Regions from separate parts of the Homo sapiens genome. Here region 2 is linked to region 1. Evidence: fine-mapped expression QTL. A gene starts in region 1. The other region holds a variant in brackets. All regions are shown on one strand. Distances are between the middles of the regions. Region 1 holds the start of TRIM4 (tripartite motif containing 4). Region 2 overlaps TRIM4 (tripartite motif containing 4).

What was found.
Region 2: its variant is fine-mapped to the expression of TRIM4 in whole blood (INTERVAL, PIP above 0.99).

What each region holds. Positions count from the first base shown.
Region 1 is chr7:99,911,272-99,927,555 of GRCh38, forward strand. TRIM4 (tripartite motif containing 4) reads right to left here and starts at 8,259. Exons shown (of 6, transcript NM_033091.3): 1 at 7,738-8,259. The coding sequence starts at 8,130. LOC101927610 (a long non-coding RNA gene) reads left to right here and starts at 8,332. Exons shown (of 2, transcript XR_001745296.3): 1 at 8,332-8,556; 2 at 9,913-14,043. It overlaps GJC3 (gap junction protein gamma 3), which reads right to left. Exons shown (of 2, transcript NM_181538.3): 2 at 11,995-12,332. The coding sequence ends at 12,274. RefSeq lists a silencer at 7,831-7,990 and enhancers at 8,121-8,170, 8,201-8,280, 8,521-8,630.
Region 2 is chr7:99,891,670-99,905,706 of GRCh38, forward strand. TRIM4 (tripartite motif containing 4) reads right to left here. Exons shown (of 6, transcript NM_033091.3): 4 at 11,907-11,929; 5 at 11,549-11,646; 6 at 1-1,077. The coding sequence ends at 494. Among named protein-coding and RNA genes, the nearest start is that of TRIM4, 21 kb to the right of the region's middle. The variant G/A (reference allele first, on the strand shown) is at 4,738.

The DNA.
Region 1 (16,284 bases):
TGTAGAAAATAAAAATCCTGCAAAGAAGCTAAGGTGAGCAGTTGGTGAAAAACCAAGAGAGAATGGTTTCTCCTATGCCAAAGGAAGAGACCATTTAAATTACAAAACTAGTGAATAGTGTCAAATGCTGGAGGGTGGCCTGGGCAACTTTCTGTAAGTCTCACTATATGTCAAAATAAACAAAAAATTAAAAAAATTAAAAATAAATTTAAAAAACTAAAAGAAAAGAAATGATTAGAACTAAAAAATAATCTGTACAACTTTTTAAATTCTTCCCCAGAAAACTAACAATTACTAATAGGTATAACTTTTCATCCAATCATTTACAAGTGACAATGGTTAAAATCAAGTTAAATAACTGACAAGGTTGATAACATCAAAGTTGGCAAGGGTATGGAGCAACTGGAACTCTTACACAACATTAGCAGGCGAATGAAATGCTACCACCATTTTGGAAGAAGGTTCAGTGTAAAACTAAACATACATTAATCCTAGGGTACAGCAATTCTACTCCTAGACCCTGGAAAAATGAAAACATGTACCCATAAATAGACCTGTACAAGAATATTCATCGCAGCTTTATTCACAATAGCTAGAAGCTGGAAACAGTCCAGGTATTCATTGATAGGAAGGTGGATAAATAATGGCAAAAACCGCAATTACATTTGCACCAACCTATACAAAAATGGATAAATCTCAAAATCAATATGCTGAGCAAAAGGATCCATACAGACAATGGAATTCCATTTATATGAAGTTCTGGAACAGGCAAAACCTAATTTGTGTTTGAAAAAAAATCAGAACGGTGGTTGCCCTGGTAGGGGAAGGGTGCAGAGAATAACTGGGAAAGGGCATGAAAGAATTCTCTGGATGGTAATATCCTTTATCTTGAGAAGGGCATTTGTCAAAGCTCAGCAAATGTACAACTAAGATTTGTGTTTTTCATGGTATTAAATTTTACCTCAAAAAATACCATAGGCCAGGCACGGTGGCTCACGCCTGTAACCCCAGCATTTTGGGAGGCCAAGGCAGGTGGACAGCTTGAGGCCAAGAGTTCGAGACCAGCCTGGGCAACATGGTGAAACCCTGTCTCTACTAAAATACAAAAGAAATAGCCAGGTGTGGTGGCACAAGCCTGTAATCCAGCTACTTGGGAGGCTGAGGCATGAGAATCGCTTGAACCCAGAGGCAAAGGTTTCAGTGAGCCGAGATCACACCACTGCACTCCAGCCTGGGTAACAGAATGAGACTCTACATATTAAAAAAAAAAAATAATACCATAAACAAATGTTAAATCTGGTTAATGATATACATGCTGAAGTATTTTGTTTGCAATTGAATTTTAAAAGCATCAAAAGGAAATAAGAATTGATGTATTCAGAGAGATACAGACAAATGGACAGCTATGTGATAAAAGAGTCAAATGTTAATGGTAGAATCTACATGTGGGTACACTGGTGTTACTACAAAATTCTTCCAACTTTGATGTATGCTTGAAATTTTCATGGTAAAATGAAATAGGAAAACAAAATTAAATTATAAAAGGGATTCATACAGTTCTGTTAAATGGCACAATACCATCTGTGCTATTCTGTTTCTACCATGATGTTTCCTAACATTATATCATCTATTTACTATCTCTAGTAGTTAACTTTAATAGGCATGTAACCCTGCTACTCTCTCATGTAATTTCACTTTATTCAATTATAACTGCCGCTTTGTGGTCACTGTCAAATTTGATGTATATGAGGTTTGTAATGAGATATATATTAGTTCCTTCAAATAGGACCAAGTTTTTGAAAGTTTTCACTTTGCTTGATAATGAAAAATATAATAATCTACTAAATAGAGATTTTCTATGTCTTAAAAAGCCTTAACAAGTCAGTATGCATGAATTCTCTCATATGGTTCTACTACTCAAGACTCTACCCAAGTTTTTTTCAATCTGGCCACAGTTGGAATCTAAACTGGGAGGTGAGTTAACTTGACAGCCTTGGTGGAAGTTAGAAAACACTTTCCCTGCAACAACAGAAACTGCCAGGAGGTGGCAGGAGCGCAACACCAAGCATTTCAATCTGGGTTAGAAATACCAGAAATTTTAAAAATCACTCTCTCAGCTAGGTGCGGTGGCTCACGCCTGTAATCCCAGCACTTTGGGAGGCCAAGGCGGGCAGATTACGAGGTCAGGAGTTCCAGAGCAGCCTGACCAACATGGTGAAACCCCGTCTTTACTAAAAATACAAAAAAAAATTAGCCGGGCATGGTGGCACACGCCTGTAATCCCAGCTACTCAGGAAGCTGAGGCAGGAAAATCGCTTGAACCCGGGAGGTGGAGGTTGCAGTGAGCTGGGATCGCGCCACTGCACTCCAGCCTGGGCAACACAGTGAGACTCCATCTCAAATAAATAAATAAATAAATAAATAAAAATAATAATTTTTTTAAAAATCACTTTCTCTTAATTTAGCACCAGAAAATTATACGTATATGAAAACACAAGTGTAATAAAAGAGCATACTTTTATAGAATGAAGACATTTACTGACTTGTGATCATGTAGCTCAAACAACATTAAACTTCCAAAGATCTTAGTTTCACTCTAGACCTTCAAACCAGCTGTGCATCTGTGAGCAAGTCAGCCTTGCTTATTTCCTGGATCAAGGCTTCCTTAACTATAAAATGAAGACAACTGGACCAAATGTCTCTTAAATACCATCCCAGCTCTTGAGTTCTATGAATTTCAGTCACTGTAACTTCTGCAATTGATCCAAGCTGGTAGGTGTACTTTGGAAATATACCTCAAATCTACCTACATGCCAAACCCCACTGCCACCGCTAGTTGAAGCCACCATCATCTTTTGTCTGACAACTACAATAACCTCCCGACTGCCCTCCCTACTTACAGTCATGTCCTTCTCTCATACAATATCCACAACGCAGCCACAGTGGCACGATCATAGCTCACTGCAGCCTCGAACTCCTGAGTGCAAGTGATCCTCTAGTCTCGGCCTCCCGAATAGCTGGGACTACAGATGTGCATCACTACATCCAGCTAATTTTTGTATTTTTTGTAGAGATGGGATCTCACAGTTGCCTAGGCTGGTCTTGAACTCCCGGACTCAAGCAATCCTCCTGCCTCAGCCTCCCAAAGTGCCAGGATTATAGGCATAAGCCACCACACCTGGCCTTGGAATAACTTTTCTAAAAACTAATCAGATATTGTCACTCTCCTGCTCAAGATTCTTCACTGGCTTTCCTCTTCACCAAGAAAATCTGAACACTTCATTGTGGCCCAACATAAGCTGACCGCTGCCTACATCTCGTTTCACATCGCATGCCACCTTTCCCCTTGCTCTTGGTCCTCCAGGTGCAGAGACCTTCTTCCTACCCCATAAACATATCCAGCTCTCCCCCGCCTCAGGGCCTCTTCCCACAGTTCCTCAGATGGCAGACTCTGCATCCAGCAAGTTTCAGCTGCAATGTCACCTCCTAAGAGAAGACTGCTCCCTTCTCTGGCATAGCACTTTTTCTTTTTTTCTTTTTTTCTTTTTTTTTTCTTGAGACGGAGTCTTGCTCTGTCACCCAGGCTGAAGTGCAGTGACATGATCTCGGCTCACTGCAACCTCCGCCTCCCGGATTCAAGCAATTCTCCTGCCTCAGCCTCCCAACTAGCTGGGATTACAGGTGCCCACCGCCGCACCTAGCTGATTTTTGTATTTTTAGTAAAGACAGGGTTTCACCATGTTGGCCAGGCTGGTCTCAAACTCCTGACCTCAAGGGATCCTCGCGTCTCAGCCTCCCAAAGTGCTGGGATTACAGGCGTGAGCCACTGCGCCTGGCCTAGGATAGCACTTTCTTTTTCTTTCCCAGCATGCCATCACCATCTGTGATTATTTCATTTATTTGTCTGTCTGCTATCTACCTCCCACCCTCAGCCCAACTGGACTGTGAGCTCCATGGAAAGCCTTTACCTGTCTTGTTCACCACTGGATTCCCAGTGCTGCATCTGGTGCCGTGCCACAGCATCTGACACAAAGCCAGTGCTCAATAAACATCTTAAATTAATTAACAGAATGGAGGGATTAGCTCCTAGAGTCAGGCATGAAGGAAAAAAGAGCTGCACTTGGAGGCCTTTTCCATGCAAACAATTTGCATCCGGAGATTTATGAAGCTATTTCTCTTTCTCTTTTCTCTTTTTCTCCCCTCACCATAACGGGTATAGGATGGGGATATTTTCCATGGATTTAGGGAACTTCCAGCTATCCAACTTTTAAAACACAGTCCATCCATCTGAGTATATGCTGAGAATGGGATGCTTGGAAATAAAGCAGCTTCACCCAGGGGCAGTTTATGTTTTTCTAACTAACTTGGGGTGGGGATGGAATGAAAGGTGGTTGAATAGGGCAGTGACTAAGCAGAGGAGGATGGAGAGATGGGCGGATATCAGGGAATTCCGCCCAGTGACCTGGCTCCTGAACACCTACGAAGTCAACCTTGTGACATTCAGCCCATCCCAGTGTAACCCTTACCCATCCACTCCTGTCCTGTTGGGCCATTGTGTTTAATCCTGAAATCCCACCTCTTCTAAGAAGTCTTCTCAGATTAGTTGTGGCAGAGTGAAAAGTGTAAAGGATTAGGGGTTAGAAGACCTCAGTTCAAGCATAGCCACTTCCTAGTTCTGTGACCTCGGGGGCATGTAACCTCACATCTCTGTGGCACAGTTGCCTCATCTTCAAAAAGGGAATAACAGAATCCACCTAATAGGATGTCTATGAAGATTAAAGAATTACAGTATGAAAAATGCTTAGAACTGTGGGTGGTACGTAAGAAGTAATGAACAACTGATAGCTATTACTGCTGAAGATGGAAGATTTAAGGGCTATGTTCCCCTTTCATACCCATCCACTTATATTTCCCTCGGCCCCCACCCACAAGTGTATTTTCCCTTCCATTTATCTGATGGGTCCTCTCCATGTCTTTTGCTGGCTACCAACCATTGGTGTTTCCCAAGCTTCTCTTTGTGCCTTTTTTTACTCTCTATGTGGTCCTCCTAGGAGAATCTCATCTTCTTACTTCTTCCATGACTTCAAGAACAGGCTGAGGATTCTAAAATATTATCTCTAGCCTCCAAGGCACCCCACCTCCTGTCCCTCTTCCTTGGACTTCCTGTCACAATTACTTCACACTCAGTACATTCCACAAGCATGGGATCTTCTGTCCTAAGACTACGCTTCCTCCTGTGTACCTTACCTCAGTTAACCTGACAGTCATCTACCTGCCATCTGAAGCAGAAATCTGAACTACCATCCAAGACTCCTCTCTCTCTCACCCACCAAGTCTAATTGATCACCAAGTCATTCAACTCCAGCTCATTATCACTCCATCCCTCCCTCTCCATCATCCCTGCCCTGAACTAATTCAGGTCTTTATTACCTCCTGCTTAAAATGGTACAAGAGCAGCCTAATTAGTCTTCTCTTCCATTCATCCACGTGGATGTCAAAGTTACCTGTCTAAAACAAAAAAAACGATCATATCATTCCCTGCCTTAAAACCCTTTTATAACTCCCCACTGCCTGAAAGAGAAAGTTCAATCTTTTTACTATGGCAAACAAGATCCTTCATGATAAGGCCCTGCCTTTTTCTTCAAGCTCATGGCCCACCATCCTCCTTCCCATGCTCCATGCTCCAGAAGTACTGAGCAACCTCCAGTCCTCTCACACACCACATGCTATCCCACTCCACCACATTTGGAATATGCTGTTCCTTTGGCCTGAAATACCTTCTTTCCTACCTCTACTCACCCTTGAAGAGCTAACACATTTAACTCCTCAACGGAGCCTTTCCTCACTCCTCAGTGATCACTCCGACCTCAGACCTTCTGTACACTTGGTAAATACTTCAGCTACTCTCACACACACTGAAATTAATGTTGTACACGCTTAAGTTCCTTACAAGACAAAGCCCATGTCTTTCTCATCCACTTATGTCCAGATTCTAAAACAATGTTTGGCAAATAGTAAGCATCAATAAACGTTACTGAGTGAAGGAATGAACATACACTTTCTAGTCCAGCTTTGTGTCTGTTTCCTGTTCATAGTCAGCTGGTACAACTGTACAGTATTTTACAGTTTCCAAACATTTTCACTGTGTCATTAAATTCATGTGTTTGGCCAGGAAAGCTTGCTCACGCCTGTAATCCCAGCACTTTGGGAGGCCAAGGTGGGTGGATCACCTGAGGTCAGGAGTTCGAGACCAGCCTGACCAACATAGTGAAACCCTGTCTTCACTAAAAATACAAAATTAGCTGGGCATGCTGGCAGGTGCCTGTAATCCCAGCTACTCGGTAAGCTGAGGCAGGAGAATCACTTGAACCCGGGAGGTGGAGGTTGCAGTGAGTTGAGATCTCACCACTGCATTCCAGCCTGGGCAACAAGAGCGAAACTCCATCTCAAAAACAATAATAATAAAATAAATAAATAAATTCATGTGTTCATGTACTTACTGCATATCAATTCTGCTGGAGACCACTGGAGTTACACCATCAGTAATGGGAGGGGGTGGGGCTACTCTGGAAAGGATGATCAGGGAAGGTCTTCAAGCTAAAAGCTAAAAGGATCTAAAGGATAGATGTGGGTAGAGAAAGAGAACAGACTTGAAACAAAAGCAAGAAAGCCAGTATGGCTGAAGCAGAGTAAGGTAAAGTGATTTATTCAACCGGAGCTTCTTAACCCATGAGATAGGACAGATAATCCCCAAATTCAAATGTTACAGGATTTTCCCAACTGATGAAGGAAGCTAGTAACAAAACCCAGCCTCATCATTACAAGCTAGGCTTTTCCCAAATCATCAGCTGTCTATGACATTTACAGATACAGACAGGCACTGTCCAATACAGTATCCATTTAGCCATACAAGCACCTGAAACGTGGATATTCCAAACTGCTATGTGTTGTAAATGTAAAATACACACCAATTTCAGACCTATTATGAAAAAGGAGTATAAAATATCTCATTGAGGCCGGGCGTGGTGACTCACACCTTAATCCCAGCACTATGGGAGGCCAAGCGGGGCAGATCACTTGAGGTCAGCAGTTCGAGACCAGCCTGGCCAAGATGGTGAAACCCCTCTATACTAAAAAACAAAAATTAACCGGGTGTGGTGGCGTGTGCCTGTAATCCCAGCTACTCGGGAGGCTGAGGCAGGAGAACTGCTTGAACCCCGGAGGAGGAGGTTGCAGTGAGCCAAGATCACGCCACTGTGCTCCAGCCTGGGCAATAAAGTGAGACTCCATCTCAGAAAAAAAAAAAAAATCTCATTGATAATTTTCATCTCAGCTTTGAATATTTGGGGTAATCAGATTAAATAAAATATATTATTACAATTAACGTCACCTCGTTTCCTTATCTTACCAGAAAGATTTTAAATTACATATGTGGTTTCTATTGGACAGCAGCGGCACACACCCTCTCAGTATGTTTTTCTTTATTATGAGCTCCCCAAGGGCCAGTTTATTGAAAATTCTGCACAATGATTGCTGAGGTTTGCACCTCCCCTCCTCTCATTCCAGTTTTAACCCTAGCTCTGAAATTCGTGTTTTGCTTAACTTCTTTGAGTTTCAGGGGCTTTTCATGCTTCCAGTAGGAATGACAGCCACTTCGTGGCTCTTTTAGGAGCATTAAGTAAACTTTATCGGGCAACACTGACAGCCCCGTCATAGTCACCGCGACGGCCAGCTCACCCGGTAGCTCTCGAAGGCCTCGTCGATGGGTGCCATGGCGTGAGTCTGGTGCTCCTGGGACTCCCTGCACACCAGGCACACTGGCCGCTGGTCGTCCTCGCAGAAGAGCCGCAGCGGCTCCCAGTGGCGGCCGCACAGGCCCGGGGGCACGGGGCCCAGGCGCCGGCGCTGCGTCTTCTCAGTCAGCCTGGCCAGGGCCCAGTTGGGTCGCAGCGCGGCGGGCGCCGATGGGTGCCGACATTCGGGGCAGGGGAACGGGCCGCCGCCCGGCGCCCAGTTGCGGTGCAGGCAGCCGCGGCAGAAGTTGTGGCCGCACTCGATGGACACCGGGTCCTGGAAATAGTCCAGGCAGATGGGGCAGGTCAACTCCTCCTGGATGTCCTCAGCTTCCATGCTGCTTCCCTGCCGCGGAGACGGAGTCCGACGTGAGGCGCGGGAGAGGCCAGCAAGCTGCGAGCGGCCGCGGGGAGGCCAGACGACTTCCGAACCGCCGTCACCGCCTCACGTAAAAGGGTACAACGCAGTTTCTCTTCCGGGGTTCAGGACCCAAAAAGAACGCACGGACGTTGCCCGGCCTGAGCGCGCAAGACCGGAAGCTGCTGGGTATCCGCGCCGGAACCGCGAGGGGGTTGGTTCAGGCCTAGGCGCGGGGCAGGACGGGACCGGTGAGTGGCTCCTCCAAACAGCTATAGAGACCCAGAAATGCCTGTGGAAAGCTACAGAGGACTTGGGCAAGGCGTTAGAGCCGGACGTTGTGGTCCCTGGGGGAGCCAACCGGGGAGGTGCCTATGATCTTTCTTTCCAAGTTTGAGGGTTCAGGTCTGTGTTCGCCTGCTGGTTAGACCGATTTAAGTTTTAGAGTCCCAGGAGTTCTGGGCGAGCTGCAGCCTAGGGGCCTGGAAGGCCAGGAAGACTTGAAGGATCTGTGTTGGTAGGCCTGGAGTTTGGCTAACGTGGGGATGATTTGGATTCTGAGATGCAGATACATTGCCTTTTTGGTATCCAATTTGAAAAGTAGCAACCATTTTGCTATCCCAAAGAACATCCATGGAGGCTTTCAACAAATAATATGCTCACCTGTTTCAGGGAATTATCTATATCCCTTAAGTGGATTTTCGATCTTGTGTTTCTGAGGTGCTTTGCTTTTTATTCTTCCCACTTTCTTCCTTTTCTTGTGAATATTTGTTTAAAACAAAAAAAACTCTGGACTGACAAATTTAATAGAAGCTATTTGCACAAAGAACAGTTCATGAATTGGGCAGCACTCAGAACCAAAAGAGGTTCAGAGAGCTCTGTCCAGCAGTATGACCTGCTAGCTTTTATAGGAAGCAAAGTAGAGAAATCACCTCATTAGCTAACATCTAGGTGTCTGCCTTATTTGACAATGATATGATGAGGCATTTGCCTTATTGGGGCATGGTCTGATCAGTTGGCTGTCTGTTATTTGCTGAAGCTCGGCCGTGATTGGCTGAAACCCAGCTGTTATAAAAAATAAAGTAAGTTAGGCTTCAGTTCGTTTACATACTAAGTCAGGTTGTATTTTGTTATATGGGAACTCAAGTACCAAGACAGCCTCAGGCTAATGGGCTTTTGCTTATTTAACAGATTTTTCATTCTTTTTATGTCCCAATATCAAATACTGCCTTTCCTATAATAATTTTTCTCAGTAAGTAGTATGATTAAATGATTAGAAAAAGGGGTTCTTGAGGTATCTGTTTGGGGGTTATTGATGAAAGTTCCACTGAATATTTCTAAAACATTTAAATTGGACAACTAATGAATGGATTTTCTTTGCAAATTGGAATACTCTATGGAGAAGGGATCTGGTTCTTTAATAGGGACCAAGCAGGAAGGAATGCTCTTAACAGTTACTGATGTTTACCATGAGTGTTTATGGCATCTGTGTGTCTATATGTTTACCTAAGTATTGAATGAGAAGTTTCAGCATTCCTGCAAAGTATTTATTCCCCTTACAGTAGTCATTTAAATCTTTTCAGGTAAATCCCTTAAAATCCTTATGTCTTTATTCCTGCCATACCAGAGATGACCTTCCTTCTTTACTAAGTGAGGCTCCCTAATTAACAATTTTTCTCCATCACAAAATGTCTATAAGTCTGTATACCAGCCAAGGTTCATTCAGAGAAGTGGAATCACTATGTTTCTTTATGTTCGCAGGGCAAGCAGTTAAGAAGGGAAGATGAACATAAAGTAGGGAAGAGCAAAAATGAGTTGGAACCTAAGACACGAGCTGGTCATTCTTTCACTGTCTCCAACTTTAAAGATATGAGTATCCTTGCTAGAGGAGCTGACACTTTTTGCCACAGGACTAGACACACACACAGCTCAGGAATCAAAAAAGGTGAAGGAAGACTCAGGGAAAAGCTTCTGCCCCATCCCAACAAGGTGAACCAGCTGATTGGTGACAAAGTAGATGAGCCGCAGTAGCACCTAGTGTCCCTGCACCACCGTTTCAAGTATAAAACTGGAGGGATGCTTCAGTTCTCCCCTTCAAGACTTACACAACCATGTCTCTGTTGGGCTATTCTAACCAGAAACAAAAGGAAAGGAAATTCTGGGAAACATAGTTTAGCTTAGCAAAGTTGATATATTACAAAATTACCACTGTCCACTCTGCATCGAGTTGACATCCATACAGACCTCTTTAAAACACACTTTCAAAATAAAGTCCACACCCTACACATAAGCTATCTCTAGAGAAATTTGAAGTCTGTTGTGCACTGAGGATAACCACAACAACAAACTGTAAACCTAGCCCAATTTCTGACTAGACTGATACCACCGAACCACTGCTATGCACTCAAGAGCACTAAAGGCCTAGCAGAAGGAAAGACACACTCATCTCCAAGCATAAAAACAATCTTTACTTCATACTGTGAAGAGAGAATTGAAAAAATAATTTAAGCAAAAAAAATACAACATGACTAACTTTTAACAGAAAGAAAAAAAGACGCATACAGAAAGGCAAGAAAAAACACAGTCCAAAGAGATAAAACAATCATTAGAACCAGATTCATAAGACATAGACATTAGAAATATGAGAGAATTTTAAATAACTGTGATTAATGTGATGAAGGCCCTAAGGGGAAAGGTGAACAAAATGCAAGCTCAGATGGGTGATTTTAGCAAATAGATGGAAACTATCAGGAAAAATAAAATGGAAACTATAAAAATAAAAAATATAATAATAGAGATGAAGAATGCCCTCCATGGGCCCATTAGGAGACTGAACACAGTTGAGGAAAAAATCAGACTTGAAGGTAGGTAAATAGAAATTGCTGAAACACACACACACACACACACAAAAAGAGTGACAGAAACAGAACACAGCATCCAAGACTGGTGGGAAAATATCAACATCAAATCAAGAAATAGGCGCAGTGGCTCACCCCTGTAATCCCAGCACTTGGGGAGGCCGAGGCAGGCAGATCACGAGGTCAGGAGATCGAGACCATCCTAGCTAACGCAGTGAAACCCCGTCTCTACTAAAAATTCAAAAAAATTAGCCGGGCATGGTAGCAGGCACCTGTCGTCCCAGCTACTCGGGAGGCTGAGGTAAGAGAATTGCGTGAACCCGGGAGGCGGAGCTTGCAGTGAGCTGAGATCACACCACTGCACTCCAGCCTGGGCGACAGAGCAAGACTCTATCTCAAAAAAAAAAAAAAAATCAAGAAATAATGGCTGAGAATTTCCAAAATTTGTAAGACACCAAACCAATCCAAGGAGCTCAGAGAACACAGAGCAGGATAAATTCTTTAAAAAGAAACTAAGCTTATTGTATTCAAACTAAGCTTATTGTATTGATACCTGGTAGTTATAACTTACCAAATACACTGCCCAACATCTCCAGATGATCTATTATTTCTGAAAGTTTCCTTTATTACATTTCTTACTTCAGGGAGATATAGCCTTCGCTTCATGTTATGGTTGGTGCAGTCAGTATTCTCAGAAAGAAAGTACTGGTTCCATTTTACCTCCATCTTTTGTTTCCTGTCAGAAAACCTACCATACCACCAAGTACTCCTTCTCTACACTGCCTCTGATATTTAAGTAATTTGAGAATTCTGTTGAGACTATCTCCCTTTTTTGGTATGATGAATCTGGTCCTAAATTGCATGCCAAAGACTTTGAGAACTAAACTGTAGACCCAGATCTCATGTCCCAGACTGGCCTTTTGTTACCCACACAATGAATGGGTTAAATTGCTTGGCAGGGGACAGTCCAATGACCACAACCAAGGAGGATTTCCCAGGGGGATTTTATTACTTGCGATAAGTAAGGAGGACACTGGGAATAATTCCCCAAAGCAATGCCTCCCTGAGCAATGGTGCAAACATGGCTTTTATTAGTCTGGTTAGCTGAGTCATTGTATGTAGAGGTGGAGTCAAGGCAGCGCAGTCCCAGTTGTCGGTTATGCTGCTACATATGTCACATGTATAGAAAATGGTGAATAAGCTCCTCCTTGGACAGGATTTTAAGTATGGTGATGAGGAAAGTTGGCCAAAGTTCATCTCCAACTCAGGCATCTCTGGGTCCAACTGGTCTTTGTTTTTCCTGGGCTAAGCTTCTTCCTGGAACTTTTTAAAACAAAAATTCAAGATGTAACAGTTACAAGTGTGTAACTTTTTCACAGTGCGTACCCAAAACCCAAGGACCCTGGGTTACACTTTAGGTGCCACCCATGTGGGACCTATCAGAAGAGTACTACAAAGGCTTTGAAAACTGAACTGACATTGGAACCACAACCCTCAGAAGGCTGGTCAAAACTTATGACTTGAACCCAAATGGGTTAATTACCCTTTAAAACATAAATATCAACATCCTCCACCAAATTTAACCAAGACCCAGAGCATCCTAATGACATTCAAAATGTCCAGGATACAATCGATATTAATTGGCAGGTGAAGAACCAGGAAAATCTCAACTCACGTTGGGAAAAAATGTAACAGATGCAGAATGTAAGTTGCCACACATGTTGGAATTATCAAGACTATAAAGCTGCTATTCAAATGGAAAGTTTAAAAGTCTCAGAGAAGTAATAGAAAATACAAAGAATAGCCCCATGGAAATTTTAGAACGGGAAAATACAAAAACCGTCATCACATCATATCCGGGGCACATGCTGTCAACATTGCTCATCACTGTTGATGTTAACCTTGATCACCCGGCTGAGGTAGTATTTGATGGGTTTCTCCCTGTAAAGTTATTCTTTCCCCTCCCCCTATTTTACTGTTTAGTGGGAAGTCACTATGTGCAGCCCATGCCTAAAAAGGGAGTAGTTGGTGGGCACGGTGGCTCACGCCTGTAATCCCAGCACTTTGGGAGGCTGAGTGGGTGGATCACCTGAGGTCAGGAGTTCGAGACCAGCTTGGCCGACATGGTGAAACCCCGTCTCTGCTAAAAATACAAAAATTAGCCAGGCATGGTGGTGCACGCCTGTAATCCCAGCTATTCAGGAGGCTGAGGCAGGAGAACTGCTTGAACCTGGGAGGCAGAGATTGCAGTGATCCTGCCATTGCACTCCAGCCTGGGCGATGAGCAAAATTCCATCTCAAAAGAAAAAAAAGTGAGTAGTTATATTTCCCCTCCTTGCGGTGGAGTATCTACATTCTTCTGCATGAGAAATTTGTCAGTTATCTCCTATTTATTCAATTATTTATATTATGAATTCATGGATTCCTATTTTATACTTTGGGTATAATCCAATACTATGTTGTTTATTTTACTGCTCAGATTATTCCTGTGTTGGCCATTGGGAACTTTTTCAGTTGACATCTGTGTCCCTTTGACAAACTCCTGTCATTTTGTGGGGAAGAGGGAGTAGCACTTTCTTACTTTCTACCGCTACAAAATCCTCCAGTCTTATCTTGTATTTCTCTTCCCTAACCCTAAAGTCAATCATTCTCATTTCTCTAATGATAAATGATGTTAAACATCTTTTCATATGCTTTCTTATTATCTGTATATCTTCTCTGATGATTACCAAGGATGGGAAGGGTAGTAGGGGGAAAGTGGAGATGGTTAATGGGTACAAAAAATAGAATGAATAAGAATTAGTAGTTGATAGCACAACAGGGTGATTACAGTCAAAAATAATTGTACATTATAAAATAACTAGTATAATTGGATTATTTATAACAAAGGCTGAAGGCTTGAGGTGATAAATACCCCATTTACCCTGATGTGACTATTACACATTGCATACCTGTATCAAAATACCTTGTATACCCCATAAATATATAACCTACTATGTACCCATTTAAATAAAAAAAGTTTTTAAAAAAGAAATAGTGCTGAGACAATTGAATATCCACATGCAAAAGATAAAGTTTGACATTTATCTTACACCATACACAAAAATTAACTCAAAACCAACCAGAGACCTAAATGTAAGAGCTGAAACTATACAACTCTTATGGAAACATAGGCATTAATCTTTATGGCTGTGAATTAGGCAATAGTTTCTTAGGTAATACACAAAAATCATAAGCAACAAAAGAAAAAATTGGATGTTAGACTTCATTAAAATTTAAAACTTTTGTGCATCACTATCAAGAAAGTGAAAGACAATCATAGAATGGGAGAAGATATTTGGAAATCATACATACAATAAGTATCTAATACCCACAATATATAAAGAGCTCTTACAATGCAACAACAAAAATACAAAAAACTCTATTTATAAATGGGAAAAGGATTTGAATAGACATTTCTCCAAAGAAGATATACAAATAACCACTAAGCACATGGAAAATGTTCAATGTAATTAGCCATTAGGCAAGTGCAAATCAAAACTACAATGAGATACCACTTCACACCCACTAGGATGGCTAGAATTTAATAGATAAATAAAAAGTATTCCCACATTGCTGGTAGGAATGTAAAAATAGTGCAGCTGCTGTGGAAAAGAGTTTGGCAGTTCCTCAAAAGTTGAAACGTGGAGTTTCCTTATGACCCAGACATTCTATTCCTGGTTATTTATGCAAGAGAACTGACAACATGTGTTTACACAACACTAAAACTGGGGCCAGGTGTGGTGGCTCAGGACTGTTGTTCCAGCACTTTGGGAAGCTGAGGCAGGCAGATAACCTGAGGTCAGGAGTTTGAGACCAGCCTGGCCAACATGGCAAAACCCTGTCTCTACAAAAAATACAAAAATTAGCTGGGTGTGGTGGTGCGCACCTGTAGTCCCAGGTACTCAGGACGCTGAAGCAGGAGAATCGCTTGAACCCAGGAAGTGGAGGTTGCAATAAGCCAAGATCACACCACTGCACTCCAGTCTGGGTGACAGAGTGAGACTCCATCCCAAAAAAAAAAAAAAAAGTGGTACACATATGTTCATAGCAACAGTGGTCATAAGAGCCAAAAAATGGAAACAACCCAAATGTCCTGAAACTGAAGAATGTATAAACAAAATGTGGTATCTCCTTAAACAAAATGTGGTATATCCTAACAGTGGAATAACACTCAACCATATAAAGGAATGTAATACTGAAACATGCCACAACATGAATGAACCTCAAGTTATGCTCAGTGAAAGAAGCCAGACATGAAAGACCACATATTGCATGATTCCATTTGTATGAAAGAGTAGGAAAACCAATAGAGACAAAACCATATGATGGTTGCATGTTTTGGGTGCTAATAAGAGTTTGAGAGTAACATGAGGGGGTAGGGTTTTTTTAAGTTGATGAAAATGTTATTAAATTGGTAGTGTTGATGGATATACAACTCTGAATATACTAAAGGCTATTTAATTGTATACTTTTGTCACTGGTAGAGGATAGTGACTGCAAGTTGTCCAGGTTCTTGGCGTTTTGAACAAGGAATTGGACAAAACTCCTAGCAAAGCAAAGAAAGGATGAAGCAACAAAAGAACGAAAGCAGGGATTTATTGAAAACCAAAGTACACGCCACAGTGTGGGAGCAATCCGAGCAGCGGTTCAAGGGCACGGATACACAATCTTCTTGGGTCCCAGTACCCACTAGAAGTTTCCCTTTGGCCAGTTCATGCTTTGCAGAAAGCAACCAATCAGAGGCTAGGAAGAAGTTACGAAGTTGCAAAGGAAGACTCATCTGCAAACAGCCTGATTTGTTGGGGACAGGCAATTTCCCATCTGCTGCACAGAAAAGGTGGGGGTGTTGCAAAGGGAGTAGCCTCTGGTCCTTGTGTTACTTAGGCAAGGAAAGTTAGAGTTTTCCTTTCAATTTAGTCCTAGGAAGTTGGCGTGAAACAGCCTTAGGTTCCCTTCCTCCAGAACCTATTCTCCTGCCTCACTTTAAGTGGATAAATTATATGGTGTATGAATTATATCTCAATAAAGCTGTTTTAAAAGGGGGTGGTATAAGGAAGAATTCCAAATGATGCTATTTGCGTTTTTCCTTGGTCACTTTGGCTGGGCTCTGGCTACAGTGGATGAGGGATTCTTATGAAGCACTTGTGTAGCAGGAAGAAAAAAAAAATTTCCTAGCTATTGCCAAAGCATCCCTTGGGATCCCCTAACTTACTTGGGGATAATTTGGGATTCA
Region 2 (14,037 bases), 21 kb before region 1:
TGTTCACACTACGTCCCTTTAGTGCAGTTACGGTACTTCAGGCTGCAAGTAACCAAATACAACTAAAATTGTCTTATACAATAAGGGCGTAATTATCTCATATAACAAGAAGCTTGGCATGAAGGAAATTTCAACAATTTCACAACGGCAACAAAAACTCTGTTTCTTCTACCTTTCCACCATTCCTGTGTTCTCAGTTCCAATATGGCTGCTAACATCCATATGTCTTCCCCGCACATCTCTTTAAAAGCTACAAAAAGATTTCCCAAAAGCGTCTTGGAAAATTTCCTGTCCCATCTCCATTGGCCAGACCCACCTCCCATGGGACTGCCTCTTGTGAAGCACACAAAGGGCAGATACCAAACGGTACCGTTAGGGAGACCCAGAAGATGGACCATCCAGGATAGAGACATGAAGGGCAGAAGAGGGCCCAGGGATGTGTGTCCCTCAGCTGGACTACAGGGAAGGAGTTTTGGTCAGGGGAAGAAAAGCCTCATTTCCTATCAGTCACTGGTGGAATGACTAAAGATGCTAATGGACTCAACCAAAAAAATGGCCGGAGGCGTGAGACAGAAGAACAAGAAAAGGTGTGCAGGTGCACTCCGTCCACAGCGCTGTAGAAGGAGACATTCCCAGTCCCACGATCCAGGTAAACCCCCACTCGGTGGAGAGCTGGCTCTTGCTGGGTGGGAGTTCCAGGGAAGCCTATCAAGGGCCAATAGCCAGCAGCACTCCAATAAATCGCCCAGATGCCCACATCTGGGGACATTTTTGAACGATCAGTAATTCCCATGACGTCCTCCCGACACACCCCAACAGCAACCTCCAGACTATCTCTACTCTCAACTTCCCAGTAATGTTTCCCTGAGGTGAAAACGTTTTTTCCCAGAACACAGGGTAAGTGCTGAAATCTCTCTACAAAAGCAGTCTTCTGAGGATTCCTCCATCCAGCAAAGTAGTTCCATGCTGAAGAAAACACTGGCCAAGAACTGGCTGATGCTGTATTTTTCACGTATCTCCCTTCCTGGGAGAAGACGAGTTTGGGATGAGCTGTGTCTTCAGCTAGGTTTACAGCCACTGTGGAGAAAATGAGAGCTAAGTAGTGCAGCAGCTTATCATCAACCCTTCCCCAGAAATGCCCATCTTTTCCAGCATCAGTTTCATCTTTCTCCTCCTAACAAACACTCATGACTCCACTGCTGCCCAACTGATCCTCAGCCAGGCCTAGCAGGCCACAGCATGGCCTTTAGCAACCTGAAGTCCTCATTTCCCTTCTGCTCTAAAAGACTAAGCCCTAGACCAGGCGCAGTGACTCATGCCTGTAATCCCAGCACTTTGGGAGGCTGAGGCAGGGAGATCACTGGAGGTCACGAGAGTGAGACCAGCCTGGCCAACATGGCGAAACCCCGTCTCTACTGAAAATACCAAAAAACAAACAAACAAAAAAACTGGCCCGGCATGATGGTGGGCACCTGTAATCCCAGTTACTGGGGAGGCTGAGGCAGAAGAATCACTTAAACCCAGAAGGCGGAGGTTGTAGTGACCCGAGATCGTGCCACTGCACTCCAGCCTGGGTGACAGAGCAAGATTCTATCTTTAAAAAAAAAAAGACTAACCTCTAGAAACTGGGGATCTAATTATTTCATGCCCCAAGTTTTCACAAACAGCCTAAAATTTGGAGAGATATTAACAAATTCTCACGTTGAATCAAAACTAGAACCAAGGCTGCCGACTAGCTGGTTCTTTGGCTAGATACACACAGGTGTCACATAGGACAGAATAATGAGGTCTCTTTTCACGGGTTCCAGTTGTTTATGGGGCATCTCCACAAATCTCCCCACAGATCATTCAAAACTGAACTAATTATCTTACTTACACCCCCTTCTATACTCTCGGGACTAATCCACTTCATATGCAGACATCTTGCCTTCTATGTTCTCTAAGGTGTCAGAGTCCCCTCCACCTGAACACTCATGCTTTTAAATCTTTATTTTCGACTCTTTCCTCTAACCTTCAATAGCTAGTTAGTCACCAAGTCCTACCAATTCTACCTCTGAAATTTGTCACTCAGGTTCTTTTCCTCCCCTCCACTCCCATTGCCACTGCCTTTACTCCAATCTCCAGTGTCACTCAATGTGTTAATAATGTCCTCCCTGGCCTCCCTGACTCCAAATTCCCTTCCCTCTAACTCTCCATGTCTCTTGAGTTTGAGGACTTTTTTTAAAAAAAATCAGGAATGTATGCTAGAGTTTGACAAATGCTTTTCCTGCTTCCACTGAGACAATCACATGGTTTTCCTTTTTTTTTTTTTTTTACTTTAGTGATATAAACTACATCGATTTTCAAATATTAAACCAACTATGCTCTTCTGGGATAAATCTCACATATTGTGATTATTATACATTATCCTTTTTGTATACCAAAGGATATATAAATTGGTTGTGATTATTACATATTATCCTTTTAATATATTGTTGGATTCAATTTGCTAAAGTTTTCTGAGAATTTAGGTATCTATGTTCATGAGAGACATTGATGTATAATTCTTTTCTCTTGTGACGTCTTTGTCTGATTTTGGCATCATGGTAATACAGGCCTCACAGAAAGAATTGGGAAATATTCCCTCTTCATCAATTTTCAATAGGAGTTCTTGAAGAATTGGCATTTATTTCTTAAATGTTTGGTGAAATGTTTCACCAAGAAAATCATCTGGGGACCAGGCGCGGTGGCTCATGCCTGTAATCCCAATGCTTTGGGAGGCCAAGGCAGTGGATTACGAGGTCAGGAGTTCAAGACCAGCCTGACCAACATGGTGAAACCCCATCTCTACTAAAAAAAAATACAAAAATTAGCCAGGCATGGTGGCGCGCACCTGCAGTCCCAGCTACTTGGGAGGCTGAGGCAGGAGAATCACTTGAACCTGGGAGGTGGAGGTTGCAGTAAGCTGAGATTGCACCACTGCGCCCCAGCCTAGGCAACAGACCAAGACTCCATCCCCCCCCCAAAAAAAAAAAGAAAAGAAAAGAAAGAAAAGAAACAAAACGAAAGCCATTTGGAAGGTTTCTAATAGCAATTTCTTTCATAGAAATAAGATTATTCCAGTTATCTCTATCTTCATGAGTCAGCTTTTGTAATTTGTGTCTTTTAAGGACTTCATCCATTTCATCTATATTGTCAAGTTTATTGGCAAAAAGTTGCTCTTAATATTCTATTATCCTTTTAATATCTGCAGAATCTGTAATGATGTCACCTTTCTCATTTCTGACATTAGTAATGTGTGTTTTCTTTTTTTCTGATCATTTTGATTAAAGGTGTGTCAATTTTACTGAAATTCTCAAAGGACCAGCTTTTGGTTTCATTGGTTTCTGTTGGCTTTCTGTATTTCACTGCAATGATTTCTGCTCTGATTTTTATTATTTCCATTCTTCTGTTTACTTTGGGCTTTACTTGCTCCTCTTTCTCTAGTGTCTTAAGGTGGAAGCTGAGGTCAGTGATTTGAGAAGTTTCTTCTTTCCAATATAGCACTATACACTTTTCTTTAAGTTTTGCTTTAGGTGCATCCCACAAATTCTGGTATATTGTCTTTTCCTTTTCATTCCATTCAAACTACTTCCTAATTTGCCTTTTGATTTCTTCTTTAATTCAAGGGTTACTAAAAAGTCTATTATTTAGATTCTTGATATTTAGGGGGGTTTCTAAGGATATTTTGATACTGATTTCTATCAATTCCATTGTGATCAGAGAACATACTCTGAATGATCGGAATCCTTTGAATTTGACACTTGCTTTACAGCCAGCTTAGTCTATCTTGGAAAATGTTTCACGTACACTGAAAAAAATATGTAGTATATAGCTGTTGGGTAGAGTGTTCTATAAATAATGGGATCAAGTTGATTGATAATATTATTCAAGTCTACTATATCCCTGCTGATTTATTGCCTAATTATTCTAAAAATTATTAAAAGGTACTGAAAACTGCAAACGTAATTGTGAATTTGTGTATTTCTTCTTGCAGCTCTATTAGTTTTTGCTTAATATGTTTGAAGCACTGTTAAGTGCAGAAATGTTTAGAACTTACATTCTCTTGACGAACTGACCACTTTATCATTAGGATATAACATTCTTTATCTCTGGTAATATCCTTTGCTCAGAAATCTACTTTGATACTAATATACCCACTCCAGATCTATTAACATATCTTTTTCCATTCTTTTGCTTTAAACGTATATGGTTCTTCATATTTAATGTGTTTCTTTTCCAGTAAAAAATTGGGTCTTATTTTTTTTTTTTAGCCAATCCAACCAACTTCTGCCTTTTGATTAGCGCATGCAGACCATTTATAGTTAATGTGATTATTAGTATGATTAGATTTGTGTCTATTATTTTGCTGTTTTCTATTTGTCCTATATGTTTTCTTCTTTTTCTGCCTTATTTTTTATTAATCTTTTTTTATAATTCCACTTTATTTCCTTTTATTGACTAGCTACATCTCTTTTATTTTAGTGGTTTAAGGTTTATGGTATCGTATGGCAGATGCACCTGACAGCAATAACTCAAGCATACCCTAACAATGACCCTATGGTCCAAGTAGAATGTGGGTTCACACTTCCAAGCTAAGAAATGTGGGAGTGGCCAACTCAGAGATCTGCTCCTTTTCTAGGAAGGACATCTGAACATCTGAACCTCTGGCCCATTCTTGGAATGCAGGCTGTACAGAGGATCAAGGCCCTTTGATTC[G/A]GGTTAAATGGAGGTTGTTAGGAGCAGGTTGCTAAGTGAAAATGCTATATAATCTGCATGCTTTTTACAAACAGTAGCAACTGGTTTTCGTGTCCAGCCCACTGCTCCTGGACCACCCAGCATATAAGTCCTCAATAAATCCTATGTCTCATTCACCGGCTCCAGGTTTCTTCCACCTCTCAGACACAGTGCCATCCGTACTGAAATCAATAGGGGTCTAGCACAACAATTAGCCCAGCAGGAGGTTGGAGAAAATTCCACGAGTGCCAAGACAATGGGATCAGGGGAGAATCCACGGTGGAAATCCTGGGCTGGTTGTCCACATGTATGTGGGGCCCAATAGCCACTATCCTTGATGGGTGGGGCCCACCAGGTGAGTATGGGGATACCCCCAAAATGCCAAAAGTTCTGGAAGAACTGCTGCAGGGGGTGGATCCAACTAAGGGAAAGTCAAATGCCCAAGCTGTGGCAGCTGCAGTTGGCCGGCCAGTCCTGACTGTGCTTAGAGCAGCCCCCAAGGTTGAGCTTGTGGCACAGGCAAGGGTGTACCACTTACAAGATGAGCTGCAACTAGGGAGATATTAGCTCAGGCTAATTTCTGTCCCACCTGTGGGAACAGGATGACAAAATGGAGACACTGGTTTGTTGCATAGCCTGTTTGAAGGGTCACTGACTGCCACATGGAGTTAGGACTATCATGACTAAATTGTCCTGGAACCCTAAGTCCTGGGACCCCGTGAAGAGATCTAGTGGCAGGGAGGATGAGGACTGGGATGAGTCCATAGAGGTTCCCATCCTCTCAGCATGTCTGATGGTCACTACCAAGATAAAAGAAGACCAACCACACCCACAGAGGGTAGCCCTACAAGACTTGCCTCCACCTGAAAGAAGGCAGACCACCACAATGCAGGATTATACCGCTGTGGAAATGGTGAAGCTGGGAAGTAAGTTCAAACAGAGTGGGAGACAGTCGATCCCACCCTCCCTGGGATTTTACACTCTCCCACTTAGTAGAAATGGATTTTGAATGTTCCCGATGCAGATAATGATAAATGTTTGAGGTGATGAATATGCTAATTACCCTGATTTTATCATTATGCACTGTATACATGTATTGAAACATCACACTGTACCTCATAAATATGTAAAATTATTATGTAGCAACTAAAAAAAAGAACAAAAGATTTCTCAAGTCGGTTCTTGCACTCCATGGGGGAAAGGCCTAGAAAAGAATATACAGGTCACACCTATTTTACATCCTACTCCCCAACCCCCTGTATTTCCAAAATAATGAATCCCAGTCTTCCTTGTGCAAGGGGACAATCATCCTCTTATAGAACATTATAATACCCCCCACTGTCTTACTCTGGCCACTTGCAAAGCATTGCAAAGGGCCCAATCCACTTTGTATTATAAACCAGGCGCCAGGCCACTGCCAGGGGTGGTGCTCTCAGAATGACACAACTTCCTGTGTCTTACTAAATGGCTTCCCCTTTCTTGTACCCACTAAACATCTCACCTGTTGCCCACAGATGGGGTGCAGCAAACCGCTTCACCAACTGGGTGCACATGGTGACCTCTTTCCAGAACACAACAGACTATTGGGTCTGCAGAGAGTTGCCCCTCTCCTCCACAATGGGCCTGCCATGGGGCATCCATGCTGCTAACTTGAGTACCTGGAGCCATGTCTATATTTGGCATGATAAGTCTCACCCACTTCCCTTCAGCACCACCACCACATTATGCAGTGCGTTTCCCACCATCAGTGAGACAAGATGACATATTTTCCACCTAGTATGGGAGCAGGTTAGTGCTACCCCAGCTGTGGGGTATTCCATACACGATGGACAAGGGTGAGTAACAAGAGTGCAGATACAGGTAGTAAGTCATGCACCCTTATGTACTGAAAGGCATGATAATAGCATGTCACAAGCTAAACTCTTAATGTGGGGTGGCTACCCCCACAGCAATGCAACCAATCCCTTCAAATAGCCAATAATATGTGGCTAGGGTGGCACAGTAACTGTCTCCACGTAGGGGCCCATGCCCTCCCCTTGGGGATGGCTACAGGTAGACGGCAACCACAGCTGGCCTTACTTACCCTAAAATTGGGCTGGTAGATGCACCTGGGGTCGTCTTCACCTGCCGGACACATTCTGTCCCATTGAGACACCATTCTTACTAACTGGGAGAGTATAAAAGCCAGGCACTTCCAGAAGTGTGCATTCTGGAGTTGCAATTTGGAGACCTCGCTAAACATATGGCTGCAGCCTTCAAGGATACCTGTGCCATGCCATTACTCTTCTCACTGGGCAACTGTGTAAAATCGCATGGCCCTGGATATCTTAACTGCTGCCCTGGGTGGAAGCTGCACATTAATTAAAACCAAATGTTGTGTATATATCCCTATTACTCTCACATTATAACCGGGGTTATGTGAACCCTAGAAACCCATATTTCAGTAAAAATTCTCTATCTTATCAAGTGCTTGGAAAAGCTTTCTGTAGAGTATGATTGCTACTATGCTTGTCATTGTCTTTTGTTGCTGTAGTTTCTAACGCTGCTGCAGCATCTGGCAGCAATGCTACTGCACATACCTTGCCTCAGGGAAGTTGCAGAGAATGACGTGATAAGAATGTGGGGGCCATTCAAGGGTATGCTGGACTGCAGTGTACGGCAGACACACCTGACAGCAGTAACTCCAGCACACCCTGAGAATAACCCTATGGTCTAAGAAGACTGTGTATTCAGAGTTCTGAGCTAAAGAATCCAGGAGTGGCCAACCCAGAAATGCACTCCTCATCTATAAAGGCCATGTGAACTCCTGGTCCATTCCTTGGAATGCAGGCAATACAGGGAATCGAGGCCCTTTCTTTTGGGTTAAATGGAAGGTCCCAGGTGGAGATTGCTAAATGAAAATGCTATATATAACCTGCATGCTTTTTACAAATAGCAGTGGTTTGTTTTCCTGTCCAGCTGGCCATTCCTGGACTGCCCTGCATGTAGGTCTTCAATAAACCCCATGTCTCATTCACTACTCCAGATCTCCTCTTCGGCCTTTCAGACACGGTGCCATCCTTAATGAAGTCAGTAGGGGACTGGCACAAGTATACACCTTTTTATCAGTCTCCCTTCAAGTGATATTATACCACTTCACACATGAGAACTGTATCATAGTATACTTTCATCTCTCCTCTCCCAATCTTCACACTACTGTCATGGATTTTACTTTTAAATATAAGTTCCAAAATACACCATATTTTGTCTGTTGAAATAGTCAATTATTAGGGTTCTCCAAAGGAACAGAACCAAAAGGATATATATGTCTGTGTCTGTGTATGGTGGGTGGGTGTGTGTGCGCACACGTGCATGCATGCACCTGTGAGTTTTCTGGGTTTTCTTTTGAGATGGGGTCTCGCTGTTGCCCATGCTGGAGTGCAGTGGTGCAATCACAGCTCACTGCGGCCTCAACCTCCTGGGCTTAAGCCATCCTCCCGCCGTGGCCTCCCAAGTAACTGGGACTACAGGCACACACCAGCACACTAATTATTTTATTTTTTGTAGAGACAGGGTCTCACTATGTTGCCCAGGCTGGCCTCAAACTCCTGGCCTCAAGCAATCCTCCTAACTCAGCCTCCCAAAGAATTGGGATTACAGATGTGAGCCACCACACCCAGCCAGTGTATAAGATTTAATATAAGGAACTGGCTTGTGTGATTATTGCTACTGACAAGTCCGAATCTGCTGTGTGAGTTGGCAGGCTCAAGACCCAGATAGAGCCAGCGTTCTAGTTGGAAGGCCATTAGGCAGGAAGAGCCAATGCTGCAGTGAAGGCCAAGGTAGTATGCTTTAGAAATCCATCAGAAAGGTCAAGCCTTTTTTTTCTATTCAAGCCTTCAACTGATTAGATGAGGCCCACCCACATTATGAAGGGCAGTCTACACAGGCTTACTGACTTAAATGTTAATCTTATCCAAAATCACCCTCAAAAAAACACCCAAAATAATTTTTGACCAATATCTGGGCACTCTGTGGCCCAGTCAAGTTGATGTATAAACTTACCATCGCAATTCCTTTTTAAAGGAATAAATAATGACAATAATATATATTTATTCGTGTCATTACCATTTCTGGTGCTCTTTTATTCCTTTGTGTAGAGAGATTTCCATCTGGCATTTTCCTTCTGTCTGAAGGACTTCCTTTAAGACTTCCTTTCTTGAAGTGTCAGTCTGCTGTAAACTCTTTCTTTTAAGCTTTAGTTTACCTCCAAACTTATTTATTTCACCTTTGTTTTTGAAGGATATTTTTTGCCAGTTCTAGAACTCTAGGTTAACAGTTTTTTTCTTTCAGGACTTTAAAGAGTTTGCTTACTGGCATTGTTTCCAATGAGAAGTGTAATGTCAACTTCGTCTTTGTTCCACTGCAAGTAACTATCCTCTCCCCTGGTTGCATTTAAGATTTTCTTTTTAACACTGGTTTCCAGCAAGTTATGATGAGCCTTGGCATATTTTTCTTCATATTTCTCATACTCAGGGTTTGTTGAGCATCTTGGATCTGTGGACTTAGTTTTTATTATATTCAGAAAATCTTTGGCCATTATGTCTTCAAGTATTTTTCCTATTCCATCTCCCTCCCCACTCCTCTCTTTCAGGGACGCCAATCACCATAGATAATAAGGCTGCATAAAGTTGTCCCACAGGTCACTGATGCTCTTTGTGTTTTTGTAAATTGTTTTATTCTGTGTATGTTTCATTTTTTTGTAGTTTCCATTGCTCTGTCTTCAAGTTCACCAATTTTTTCTTTTGTAATATTTAATCAACTATTAATCCCATCCAGTGCATTCTTCGCCTTAATCACATTTTTCATCTTTAAAACTTTGATCTGGTCTCTATGTACCTCTTTACAGAATACACTCATAATAAATGTTTTAAAGTCCTTCCATGCTTATTCTAACATCTGTGTCAATTCTAGGTCAGTTTCAGTTGATTATTTTCCTCCATTATGGGTCACTGCTTTCCTATCTTTTTGCATGCATATTTGACTGGATGCCAGACATTGTGAATTTATATTGTTAGGTGCTCTTTTTTTGTTTATTTCTACCAATTTTCTAGGGCTTTATCCTGGGATGCAGTTAAGTTAGTTGGAAAGAGTTTGACCCCTTTGGGTCTTGCTTTCATGATTTGTAAGGTGGGTGTGGAGCAGCACCCAGTCAAGGGCTAAATATTTTCTGCTAATGAGGCAAGATTTTCCTGAGTACGCTACTCAGTGCCCGTGAACTACGAGTTTTCTGGTGTGGCTGATAGGAACTGGCACTGTTCCTGGCCCTGTGTGAGCACCAGGAACCGTTCCCTCTAATCGTTTTAGAAGCTTCTATCTCCAGCCTTGAGTAGATTTTCACAGGCATGTGCTGATCAGAACTCTGCCAAACAACTAGGAAGCTCCTCCATAGATGGCGAGGGTTCTCTCTGTGTCCGGCTCTCTCCGCTCCAGGATACTGCCCAGTACTTTGCGAACTCTCACTACTTTGTTCTCCGTGAACTCCCAGGTCTATTCCTCAACTCAGCAAGTCTCCCTGGCTCTACCTCAGTTACCTCAGCCTTACATGGTCTGGAAACTCCCTCAGGCAGAGGGTAGGGCAATCATAGGCTGACCTCATTTGTTTCACATTTCTCAGGAATCACCGTCCTTCACTGCCTGACGTCTGGTGCTTTGAAAACGGTTGTTTCACATATTGTGCCTGTTTTGTTTTTGTGTTTTTATTTTAGTTGCTGCAGACAAGAAAACAACTCGTTTATTTACTCCATTTTGGCTAGAAGTGAACACCCACAACATGGTTCTTTTTAGTTTGTTTGTTTTTTGAGACAGAGTCTCACTCTATCGCCCAGTCTGGAGTGCAGTGGATACAATCTCAGCTCACTGCAACCTCCACCTCCCAGGTTCAAGCGATTCTCCTGCCTCAGCCTCCCGAGTAGCTGGGATTACAGGTGCACACCACTATGCTCAGCTAATTTTTGTATTTTAGTAGAGACAGGGTTTCACCATGTTGGCCAGGCTGGTCTCGAACTCCTGACCTCAAATGATCCGCCTGCCTCGACCTCCCAAAGTGCTGGGATTACAGACATGAGCCTTCGTGCCCGGCCTACAACATGGTTCTTAATCAAACATGTGCACATAAGAATCACCAGCACAGCTTCTAGAGCATGTACCTGCCTTGGTGCCTCCCTGGAGATCCAATGAGTTTATTTTCAGTCTGTCCTACACTCTTCTTCTCAACCTCAACCTCTACCTTTCCTCAAAATACACCTTGTTCTTTAGCCTCTTTGGATACCCACCCCTCCATGTTCTCCACACCTTAGCTCATGCTGCTGCTTCTGCTTGAAACAGTCATCCCTGTTTTCCACCTGCCAAACTCCTACTAATCCCTCAAATCTCAAAACTGTCGCCTCTGCTGTGAAAACTTTCCCATCTCGCCCCCAACAGAGCCCTTCCTCTGAATTTCTGTAACATTTTATTCCTACCACCAGCAAACACTGGCTCCTACTATATCACTGTGAGTGCTGTGTGTCTGTCTCTCCAATGTGCTTACGAACTCATGAAGAAGTGAACAGGTCTCTTCTTTTTGTATCACTAGCACCTTGTAACAGTGCGTTAAATAAATGTTTCTTGAATGAAGTGTATACCCATTTATTAACCACCTTTCCTGACACTCTATTAGCTGCATGCTGTTTCCTCTTTCCTCTCCAGACTTCTCTCTTTATTCTCCTATTTGAAAGATTTCTAAGGAGCCCCAAGTCCTAGAAATTCTGCTCACCTTGGAATCGCTTTAGCATTTCCTTCATCAATGGTATCTGGCACACTGTCTTCACCTTTACAGCTTCAAGAGAATAGTTCACATCCTGGATCTCACTCCTAAGAAGGTAGAGAAGACTGCTCTTAGGGGACAACTAGGGTAGCCAAGACCTCCACTCCCGGTCAAAGGTTCTTAGCCCAAAGTTCAGATGGCTTCTGTTCCCATTCCTCCTCCCAGAAACAATCAGGAGAATTTTTCCTCAGACCCCCATTAGGGTGTGCCCAGACTGACCTATGGATCCTAGGCCTTGTTTCCCCTCTGCTCAGCCTGTATCTTTACCATGCCACCCAGGTCCCCATAAGAGAACAGGAGTGCATACCTGGTCAACACTTCTTTTGGATTCTGTGAAAAGAAGGAAGACATAAGCAAATTACGAACCTTCTCCTGGAGACCTGGAATACAACTGTGTGAGCAGGTATTTTCTGACGGTTGCATTTGCTCATGTCACATATGATCTCCTGCTGCCAAAGCCAACAGATTGACAGAATCTGGTCCTTTCTTTCACGTGGCCCCTCTGCACTTATTCGACAATGCTGCCTGCGCCCCTCCTCTTTCTCCTTTGGCACTATGACATAAACTGGCTCCTGGCTTCCTGCCGGCCTCCCCAACTAGTCTCAATCACAGAGCCTGCTCCTTTGCGTGCCTTTTGGTGGGTCCTCAGCAGCTCCAGCTTTGAGCTTCCACTCTTCTCCTTCCTGTTGTTTTACAAGATTGCTTTTAAATTATAATCGCAAGGGATATTTTATCATGCCCAAGTCCAAAGAGATTTTCTACAGGTGAATTTTACTAAACTTTATGGAACTGAAAATACCCTAAGTTATAACACAAAAGAGAAAAATATAAATTTTCCCAACTGATTTTTCAGAGACTATTATAACCTTGTTCCTTAAGCCATGAAATGAAACAGTAGAAAAAAATTACAGACCCATTTTACTTAAAGACATAGATGTGAAAATTCTAAGTAACATATCAGGTAACCAATGGCAACGTGTATTTAAAAAATACAGCTCCTCCAAAAACCTGTAACTCAGCCTAATCAAGAAAAAAACAGACAAATTCCAATAGGGGAGCATCCTACAAAATACCTGACCAACACTCCTCAAAACTTTCAAGATCATCAAAAACCAGAAAAGTCTCAGAAAATGTCACAGCCAAGAGGCACCTAAGGAGAGACAATGACAACCAAATGAAATCTGGTATCCTGGGTGTGGTTCTAGAAAATAAAATGAATACTAGGTAAAAACTGAGGAAATGGAAATAAACTACAAACTCTAGTTAGTAAACTGTATCACTGGTTCATTAATTGTAACAAATGAACTATATTAACACTAGATGTTGACAATAGGGGAAACTGGGTGAAGGGGTATGTGGGAACTCTGTCCCATCTTCTCAACTTTTTGGTAAACCTAAATTGTTCATTTTTTTAAAAAAACTGGTTAATTACCACATGAAAAGTGCTCAATCTCACTAGTTATCAGGAAAATGCTTTATCTGGATGAGTACAGTGGCTCATGCCTGTAATCCCAGCACTTTGGGAGGCTTAGGTGGGTGGATCACTTGAGGTCAGGAGTTCAAGACCAGCCTGGCCAACATGATGACACCCCATCTCTACTAAAACTACAAAAATTAGACAGGCATGATGGCGGGTGTCTGTAATCCCAGCTACTCGGGAGGCTGAGGAACGAGAAATGCTTGAACCTGGGGGGCGAAGTTGCAGTAAGCCAAGATGGTGCCACTGCACTCCAGCCTGGGTTACAAAGCGAGACGCTGTCTAAAAAATAAAAAATAAAAATTAAAAAAAAAAAATAGCTTTATCAAGGAAAGGTGTACATACATATATATATATATCCATATACCTTTAGGAAGAGGGAAGGGGTGCTGACTGAGGGCAGGAGATGACATTTTGCACCTTTCAGGGTGGCTAAAGTTAAAGAACTGACAAATCTAAGTATTGGTGAGGATACACAGCAACTGGAACTCTTAATTTTACACACTGGTAACAATAGTGTAAACTGGAACAATCACTTTGTACCAGTTTGAAAATGGTTTGGAATCATCTACTAAAGCTGAACACACATGTATGTCCTATGACCAGGAATTGTTCTCACAGGTATACAACTGATAGAAATGTATATAAATGTGCACCCAAAAAGATATGTTCACACATATTCCTGTTTTTAATAATAGAAACAGAAATCATCCAAATTTCCCTCAAAAGAAAAATGAATAATATGCTTTGGTATATTAATATAATGGAATACGACAGTACTATACAGCGGGCACTACTGACATTTTGGGCTGGATAAGTCTTTGCTGGGAGCTGAAGGCAGGCATGTCCTGTGCATTACAGAATGTTGGCAGCATCCTACACACAAGAGATGCTGGTAGTAACCACCCTCCAGTTGTGACAACCAAAAATGTCTCTATATAATATCAGATTTTGCCCTTGG